Linked DNA regions of Homo sapiens. The protein of the gene in region 1 purifies or fractionates together with the protein of each later gene. This does not show direct contact. Each region holds a gene or a part of one and is shown in the gene's direction. Other genes may lie near its edges.

Evidence for each region.
Region 2: the proteins of MIPEP (region 1) and INA purify together in Homo sapiens (affinity purification with mass spectrometry; 2 studies listed by BioGRID and IntAct, with this or other methods). This does not show direct contact.

The regions. Positions count from the first base shown.
Region 1 is NC_000013.11:23,882,789-23,886,705, reverse strand, and holds part of MIPEP (mitochondrial intermediate peptidase), read left to right. Parts: intron 1-199; coding exon 200-373; intron 374-3,917. UniProt on the Homo sapiens protein: Cleaves proteins, imported into the mitochondrion, to their mature size.
Region 2 is NC_000010.11:103,274,950-103,278,866, forward strand, and holds the start of INA (alpha-internexin), read left to right. Parts: upstream 1-2,188; 5' UTR 2,189-2,262; coding exon 2,263-3,327; intron 3,328-3,917. UniProt on the Homo sapiens protein: Class-IV neuronal intermediate filament that is able to self-assemble. It is involved in the morphogenesis of neurons.

The DNA.
Region 1 (3,917 bases):
TTATGTTCTGAAAACATTTTTAGTGTAATTTATGTGGAGTGATATGGGGAGTATGATAGTGGTATCTGTGATCACAGGTATAACATGATACACCAATGAAAGTCAAGATCTCCTTTGTGATAAAAGTAATTTTAGTAAATATAAAAAAAGCACAATTTTGAATTTTGGTTATAAATCAGACGTATTCTTTGGTTCTAAGGGTCTTTTTGGAGTTCCTGAGCTGAGTGCCCCAGAAGGATTTCATATTGCACAAGAAAAAGCCTTGAGAAAGACAGAATTGCTTGTGGACCGTGCATGTTCCACCCCACCTGGGCCCCAGACCGTGCTGATCTTCGATGAGCTCTCGGATTCCTTATGCAGAGTGGCCGACTTGGTAAGGTGCTTTACCTCAGACTTGAAGCTACCTCTCTTTCAACTTGTTAAAATTTAAGTGAAATTTATCCTTTGTTGTTTACTATTAATATTAGATTATAAAGTTAAAAATGTCTGAAACTGAGATCCATTGGGTATAATTTTTTATGATGAAATATGTCATTAGGAATGGGAAAATATTATAGGAAAAGGTGATATTTAGAACTTGTACTTTAATACGTATGTTTAATAAAATATACATGTAATATATAATGAATGAATACTAATATAGCAAATATTTGCTATATTTGGGTAATATATATTTACATATATATTCATTTGACAGAGATTCTTCATTTATGAAAGTGTCTCCCAAAATTCTAAGAACACTTTATGTGTACATTTACAACAAAATTCCCCTTTTTCTTTTTTTTTTTTTTTTAATAGAGACAGGGTCTCCCTGTGTTGCCCGGGCTGATCTTGAACTCCTAGCCCCAAGTGAACCTCCTGCCTCGGCCTCCCAAAGTGCTGGGATTATAAGTGTGAGCCACTTCTTTTTCATAAGAGGTGTGAAAACCAGTTTTAATAAACCTTTTCAGGAATGCTTTTTTTTTTTTAATTAAAAACCAAGTTTTGACATCAAAATGATTGTAAAGACTTTTTTTTTTTAACATTTTAAATTTGAAATAGAAGTGTATACCTAGATCTCTTCAGCAACTAGGAAATCCATTGCTGAGATAGCAAAATTTTCTTTTTTTTTTATTTTTAATTTTTGTGGGTACATGTATATATTCATGAGGTACATGAGATGTTTTGATAGAGGCATGCAATGCATAGTAATTACATCAGGGAAAATGGGGTATCCATCCCCTCAAGCATTTATCCTTTCTGTTACAAACAATCCAATTATACTCTTCTGGTTATTTTAAAATCTACAATTAAATTATTATTGACTGTAGTCACCCTGTTGTGCTATCGAATAGTAGGTCTTACTCAATCTTCCTGTTTTTTTGTAGCCATTAACCATCCCCACCTCCCCCATGCCACCCTGCTACCCTACCTAGCCTCTGGTAACCATCCTTCTACTCTTTATTTCCATGATTCAGTTGTATCTATTTTTAGGTCCCACAAGTGAGTGAGAACATGTGATGTTTGTCTTTCTGTGCCTGACTTATTTCACTAAACATAATGACCATCCATGTTGTTGAAAATGACATAATCTCATTCTTTTTTATGGCTGAATAGCATTCCATTGTGTGTAAGTACCATACTTTCTTTATCCATTCATCTGTTCATGGACAGTTGGGTTGCTTTCTCATCTTGGATGTTGTGAACAGAGCTGCAGCAAACATGGAAGTGCAGATATCTCTTCGATATACTCATTTCCAGGAAGCAGGGTTTCCTATCAGCTTGAAGGAGCTGACTCTTGGTTACTCTTGTCAAGGAAAGCAGCACACACAATTTAAATAGTGATCATTTATGATCCTGTCTACATGGTATAGAACTGCATAGGTTTTTCCCTCACATTCAGTCAATGTTGAGCACGTACTGTGTGCCAGACACTGTCTAGGCATGAGGGATACATGCAGGAATGAAACAGACACAATCTGTTACTTCATGGAGTTTATATTCTGGCATTAACTTGTTTTTGGAAATTTAACTAGACTGTAGGCCCTTTCTACAGCCTAGTTAGCTGAAGAAGCTTTCCCTGGATGAGCTGAGGTAACCTTCTCAGCATATCTCCATTTTCACAAGAGGGAAGAAAGGCACTGGGTGATGAAGGGATGTGCCCGCTGTCAGCTGGCCAGCGTGTGGTGCAGCTGGGCTGCCAGCCCAGGCAGGGTATCTGTCGAGCTCTTCTTCTTTCTCCTGTTCCAACCATTTCAGGGCTGGCTGGCTGCTCAGGTCTCATGAATCCTTACCTGGAAAGGTTGCAAAGTTTGTTAGCCTCTCCATCTTTAAAAAAAATGTATACTTGTTTTTAAAATTATTATTCTGTAAAATTGACTTCTTTTGGAGGATGGTACAGTTCTATGAATTTTAACTCGTATAAATTTGTGCAGCCCTCACCACAATCAGGATACAAAGCTGTTCCATCCACCCCCAAAAATCTCCCTGTAGTCACACCCCCCCCTCCCCACTAACCTCTGGCAACCACTAATCTGTTCTCTCTCCCTATAGTTTTGCCTTTTCTAGAATGTCACATAGGTGGAATCCTGTATACCTTTGACTGACTTCTTTCACCCAGCATAACTCATCCCCATCTTTATTTTTTTTCCTTTTTTGGAAAATTTCCTTCCACCCATACAACTGATTTGAGCATTAACACCTTTCAGATGATTATATGTTCACCACAAGCCTCCCGCTCTTAAGAAAACTGATAAAGTATCTTACTGTAAAGGGTTTTTCCCTGGAGTGAAGTTGCAGGCTCTGAGTAGTTCTGTTGTACTGGGTTTTTGTTCTGTGCCTCCAGTATGTGCATAGGAAATGTGTCTTTGAATGATGGGGAAGCTGTGGAAACGCACTGCCAAAAGGAGGTTTCATACCCTGTTCACCTAATTGTGTCACAGAAATCAGAAAAGGAAAATCTGTGTCAGTGAATTTCACTGTATCGTCAACCCTCCAGATTGGGGGATCTGTGGAGTCAACCAACCTTGGATCAAAAATATTTGGAAAAAAAATTTGCATTCATACTGAACATGTACAGACTTTCTTTTCTTGTCACTGTTCCATAAAACAATACAGTGTATCAGCTATTTACATATTGTTTACATTCATTAGGTATTACAAGTAATCTAGATATGATTTGATGTATGGGGTGTGCTGTGTGTCGGTTATATGCAAGTACTACACCATTTTATATCAGAGACTTGAGCATCTGTGGATTCGGGTATCTGTGGGAGGATCAAACCATTGTCCATTGATACTGAGGGGTGACTTGGCGTGGCTGTCACAAATCCCAGAATTCACTGTGTATTTGTTGTCTTAGTCTTCATCTTAATCAGTATTCTAGGATTTTTTTCTACATTTTTGCTTTTGATCTTCACTAAAAGATTTTAACTTCTCTGCGCTATATCTTATTTTGACATTTTTAGTATTTATCATGTATAATAATATCTCATTTTGAAAACTTAAAAAAAAAAGATGTGATTTGTATATGTAGTTCTCTGGGTATAAAAGAACCTTTCTCTGTTCTGAATTTTTAAGATATTACCTGCCAGTAAGATTATCTGAATTTTTAATATCTTAAAAATATCTGAATTTTTAAGATATTACCTGCCAGTGAGATTAGTACTGTTATAAGGCAATCGTTTTATAAACTGTTTTTCACCAAATAGTCATTTTATTTTGTTTTCTTTTTTAATACAGTTTTTATGTAACAACTGTTTTCCTCATCACTATTACAAATCAGTTTTTAATATGTATGCTAGTGTTTTGAATTTTAATATTGATTATAAATTCACAACCCGTAGATTAGTAATTTGTAAAAAAAAAATGTTGTAAATTTACATAACTCATTTTTCAGGTACTTTGGTACTAATGTTATTTTATCGTTACCAATTGTT
Region 2 (3,917 bases), on another chromosome or scaffold:
GCTGGAGTGCAGTCGCATGATTTCGGCTCACTAAAACCTCCACCTCCCGAGTTCAAGCAATTCTCCTGCCTCAGCCTCCTGAGGAGCTGGGATTACAGGCCCGTGCCACCACACCCGGCTCATTTTTATATTTTTAATAGAGACAGGGTTTCACCATGTTGGTCAGGCTGGTCTCAAACTCCTCACCTCAAGTGATCCGCCCATCTCGGCCTCCCAAAGTGCTGGGATTACAGGTGTGAGCCACTGCACCCGGCCAACTCCGTCTCAGAAAAAAAAAAAAAAAAAAAAGAGTCTCACTGCACTAAGCAGAATTATGTAGTGAAGAGAGAATGTATGCTTGTCTTTGCTTGCTGGTGACCTTGTGCTGCACCCGCACCTCGGTGCCTTATCTATAAGATGGAGGTGAGGGCCACCTTGAAGCATGGTTCAGAGGTAAACCTATGCAAAAGTGCCAGCACAAGTACTGGCAGACAATCATTACTCAGCAGTGTTAGCAATCTTTTATTGTTCACCTTACCAGGTCTTTCTAAGCCCAAAGACCTCAGAATTGAGTCCCTCCAACTCAAGGCTTTGGTCTGTGATGAGGAACCAGAGGGGCAGGCTGTGGCAGGGCCTGACCATCTTCCATGACATCAAGCACAAAGCCAAGAGATATGCTCCAAAGTCCCATAAGATCCCTTTTCACCCTTCCTTTAGTGGCCTGTCCCAAGCATATTCCCCTTTCCCCATGAAGTAAAACTTATCCTAGAACTACGTCCTTGAAGATTCCAATATCAATAAAAGGCCCTCAGTCTGGAATTCTGGGATATAACTAAAAAGGTCTTCCTACTCCCTCTCCAAAGCCATATCCACATCCTGAATGATATTAGAAGCTTGCAAGTGGGTACATATTACAGACGCCACACTGACCCCTCCCAGCCTTCATCTTTTCAGATTCCATTCTTTGATTCTCACCCCCTGCCCCACCAACCCTACCATGTGGCAGAAGAGGCCGGCTCAGTCACCAGCACTCTCCCCCACTCCTGGAGTTTAATCTTTTTGCAGGGATCTCTTTTCTCCAAAAAGAGATCTGCACAGGGAGTGGCTCTCTGAAGCCAGTTGAGAACCTGCCCTGCTGGATTTACACAAACTGAAATCTCAAATGCCCACAGGGTCAGAGAGGTAAAGTAAATGAATTAAGAAGGGGGGCGTAATTCAGTGGAGAATGGCAGGGACTGTAGTGAACAGGAGAGCACACTTCTTATACAAATGGCAAGGGCAACTCACCTCTGCCACTGTGGGCATCCCAGCTCTTCCCATTTTCAGAAGAAGCCAGAAATCCAATTTCTTTACAGGTGAAATCTCCTGGTTTAAAAATGCTCCTTTCGAAATATTTTAAAATATAATGCTCTAAACACAAAAGTCTGCAGCCCCCTTTCCAGCAGCTTGTGGTCCTGGCCTGTGCCATGCTTTAGTGCCCTAACGATGAGCCCCAGCAATTCCCAGCGCCTCCTGCTTCTCCAAGTCTGGCCTCTTTTCCCCTCTGTACCGCCGCTTCTCCCCACTCTCCGCAGCTCGGGGTCACTTTCTTTACTGATCTCCCCTCTCTTCTGGGAGAGGCACTTGCTGAACATCTTTCCGCCCGGAGCCTCCCCAGGAGCTGCAGAGGGGCAGCTGGAGAGATGCTTTCTGACGTAGCATCTCCCACCTTTCTCCTTGGGGACCCTGAGGAAGGGGACAAGGGCTCGCTCTGCAGGTCCTCACTGTAACTGGAAAAACACGACCTCGCCCTCGGGAAGGCTTTCTGTGCGCCTCACCTCAGGATGAGGGTGGGTGTAGGGGACACCTCCCAGAAACCCCTAACCTCCCAGTCGGTTAAAGAAGAGGGGATAGGGTCAAGGGATGCGACAGAGCTGTGTGGTTTCCGGATGGGAAACCTCAGTCGTTTAGGCACCCCTCCGCTCGAGTCACTTCCGAAGCAGTCGATTCTTGGGGAGAAGCGCTGCGGAAAGGGGCGACTCCGATGCAGATGGCCCTGTCCCGGCGCCCCAGGTCGTCGCGCGCGCAGCTGCGGTAGTCACTGCGCCTCCCCGCCCCCACTCCTGGATGCCCCCCTTCCCTCTCCCGGCCAGACTCTGAGCAGGAGCTCCGCCCCCAGCGCGCCGCCCCAGCCCCGGCGCCTTAAAAGCCGGGCGCACCGCCCCGCCGCGCCCTGCCTGCCGCACCTCTCCTTTCTTCTGTAGCTCGCGTTGAAGCCGCACGTCCGGCCCCGATCCCGGCACCATGAGCTTCGGCTCGGAGCACTACCTGTGCTCCTCCTCCTCCTACCGCAAGGTGTTCGGGGATGGCTCTCGCCTGTCCGCCCGCCTCTCTGGGGCCGGCGGCGCGGGCGGCTTCCGCTCGCAGTCGCTGTCCCGCAGCAATGTGGCCTCCTCGGCCGCCTGCTCCTCGGCCTCGTCGCTCGGCCTCGGCCTGGCCTATCGCCGGCCGCCGGCGTCCGACGGGCTGGACCTGAGCCAGGCGGCGGCGCGCACCAACGAGTACAAGATCATCCGCACCAACGAGAAGGAGCAGCTGCAGGGCCTCAACGACCGCTTCGCCGTGTTCATCGAGAAGGTGCATCAGCTGGAGACGCAGAACCGCGCGTTGGAGGCCGAGCTGGCCGCGCTGCGACAGCGCCACGCTGAGCCGTCGCGCGTCGGCGAGCTCTTCCAGCGCGAGCTGCGCGACCTGCGCGCGCAGCTGGAGGAGGCCAGCTCGGCTCGCTCGCAGGCCCTGCTGGAGCGCGACGGGCTGGCGGAGGAGGTGCAGCGGCTGCGGGCGCGCTGCGAGGAGGAGAGCCGCGGACGCGAAGGCGCCGAGCGCGCCCTGAAGGCGCAGCAGCGCGACGTGGACGGCGCCACGCTGGCCCGCCTGGACCTGGAGAAGAAGGTGGAGTCGCTGCTGGACGAGCTGGCCTTCGTACGCCAGGTGCACGACGAGGAGGTAGCCGAGCTGCTGGCCACGCTGCAGGCGTCGTCGCAGGCCGCGGCCGAGGTGGACGTGACTGTGGCTAAACCAGACCTGACCTCGGCTCTGAGGGAGATCCGCGCCCAGTATGAGTCCCTGGCCGCTAAGAACCTGCAGTCCGCGGAAGAATGGTACAAGTCCAAGTTTGCCAACCTGAACGAGCAGGCGGCGCGCAGCACCGAGGCCATCCGGGCCAGCCGCGAGGAGATCCACGAGTATCGGCGCCAGCTGCAGGCGCGCACCATCGAGATCGAGGGCCTGCGCGGGGCCAACGAGTCCTTGGAGAGGCAGATCCTGGAGCTGGAGGAGCGGCACAGTGCCGAGGTAGCTGGCTACCAGGTAAGGGCCGGGGCTGGGCGTGGGGAGGGGTGCCCTGCCCTCTTCCGCGCGTACCCTCTTCCTCTGGTAAAACTGGGCCCCAGGACTTAAGGGGAGGGCAAAAGAGAGGAGAGAAGAGCCGCGGCTGGAGGCGCTGGTTAACAAAAAACCCTGGAGTCTTTAATGTTAATTTTAGGGAACGCCCCTCATTTATGTCCCTGCCCCAGCCCTTCAAACAAAGAAGCCCTTAAATTTATTTGAGGTTCGAAAACCCAACTCTGCCTGTCTGTCAGCAAGCGGGCCTACACACACCGGCGACCCGGAGAACAGTGCCCCACCCAAAGTAAGACTGAGCCCAACGGGGCAGGTTACGTGGGCGGTGCTGTCTCGGCTATCTGGCTTGTTTGGTTGACTTTGAAAAGCTTTCTGTGCGCCCTAGAAGTTATTTATGGAGTATGGTCTGCTTCAGGGCTGAAGGAAGAATGCGATCCTGAACTGGGAAGAGTCCTATCCCATTTTCTTGACTTTCGCGCTCCAAAAAGTAGAGATTGGGAGCCAACAAGCTGAGCGATGCTTGAGCTAGTAGTAACCACCCTGCTCTACCCACCTCC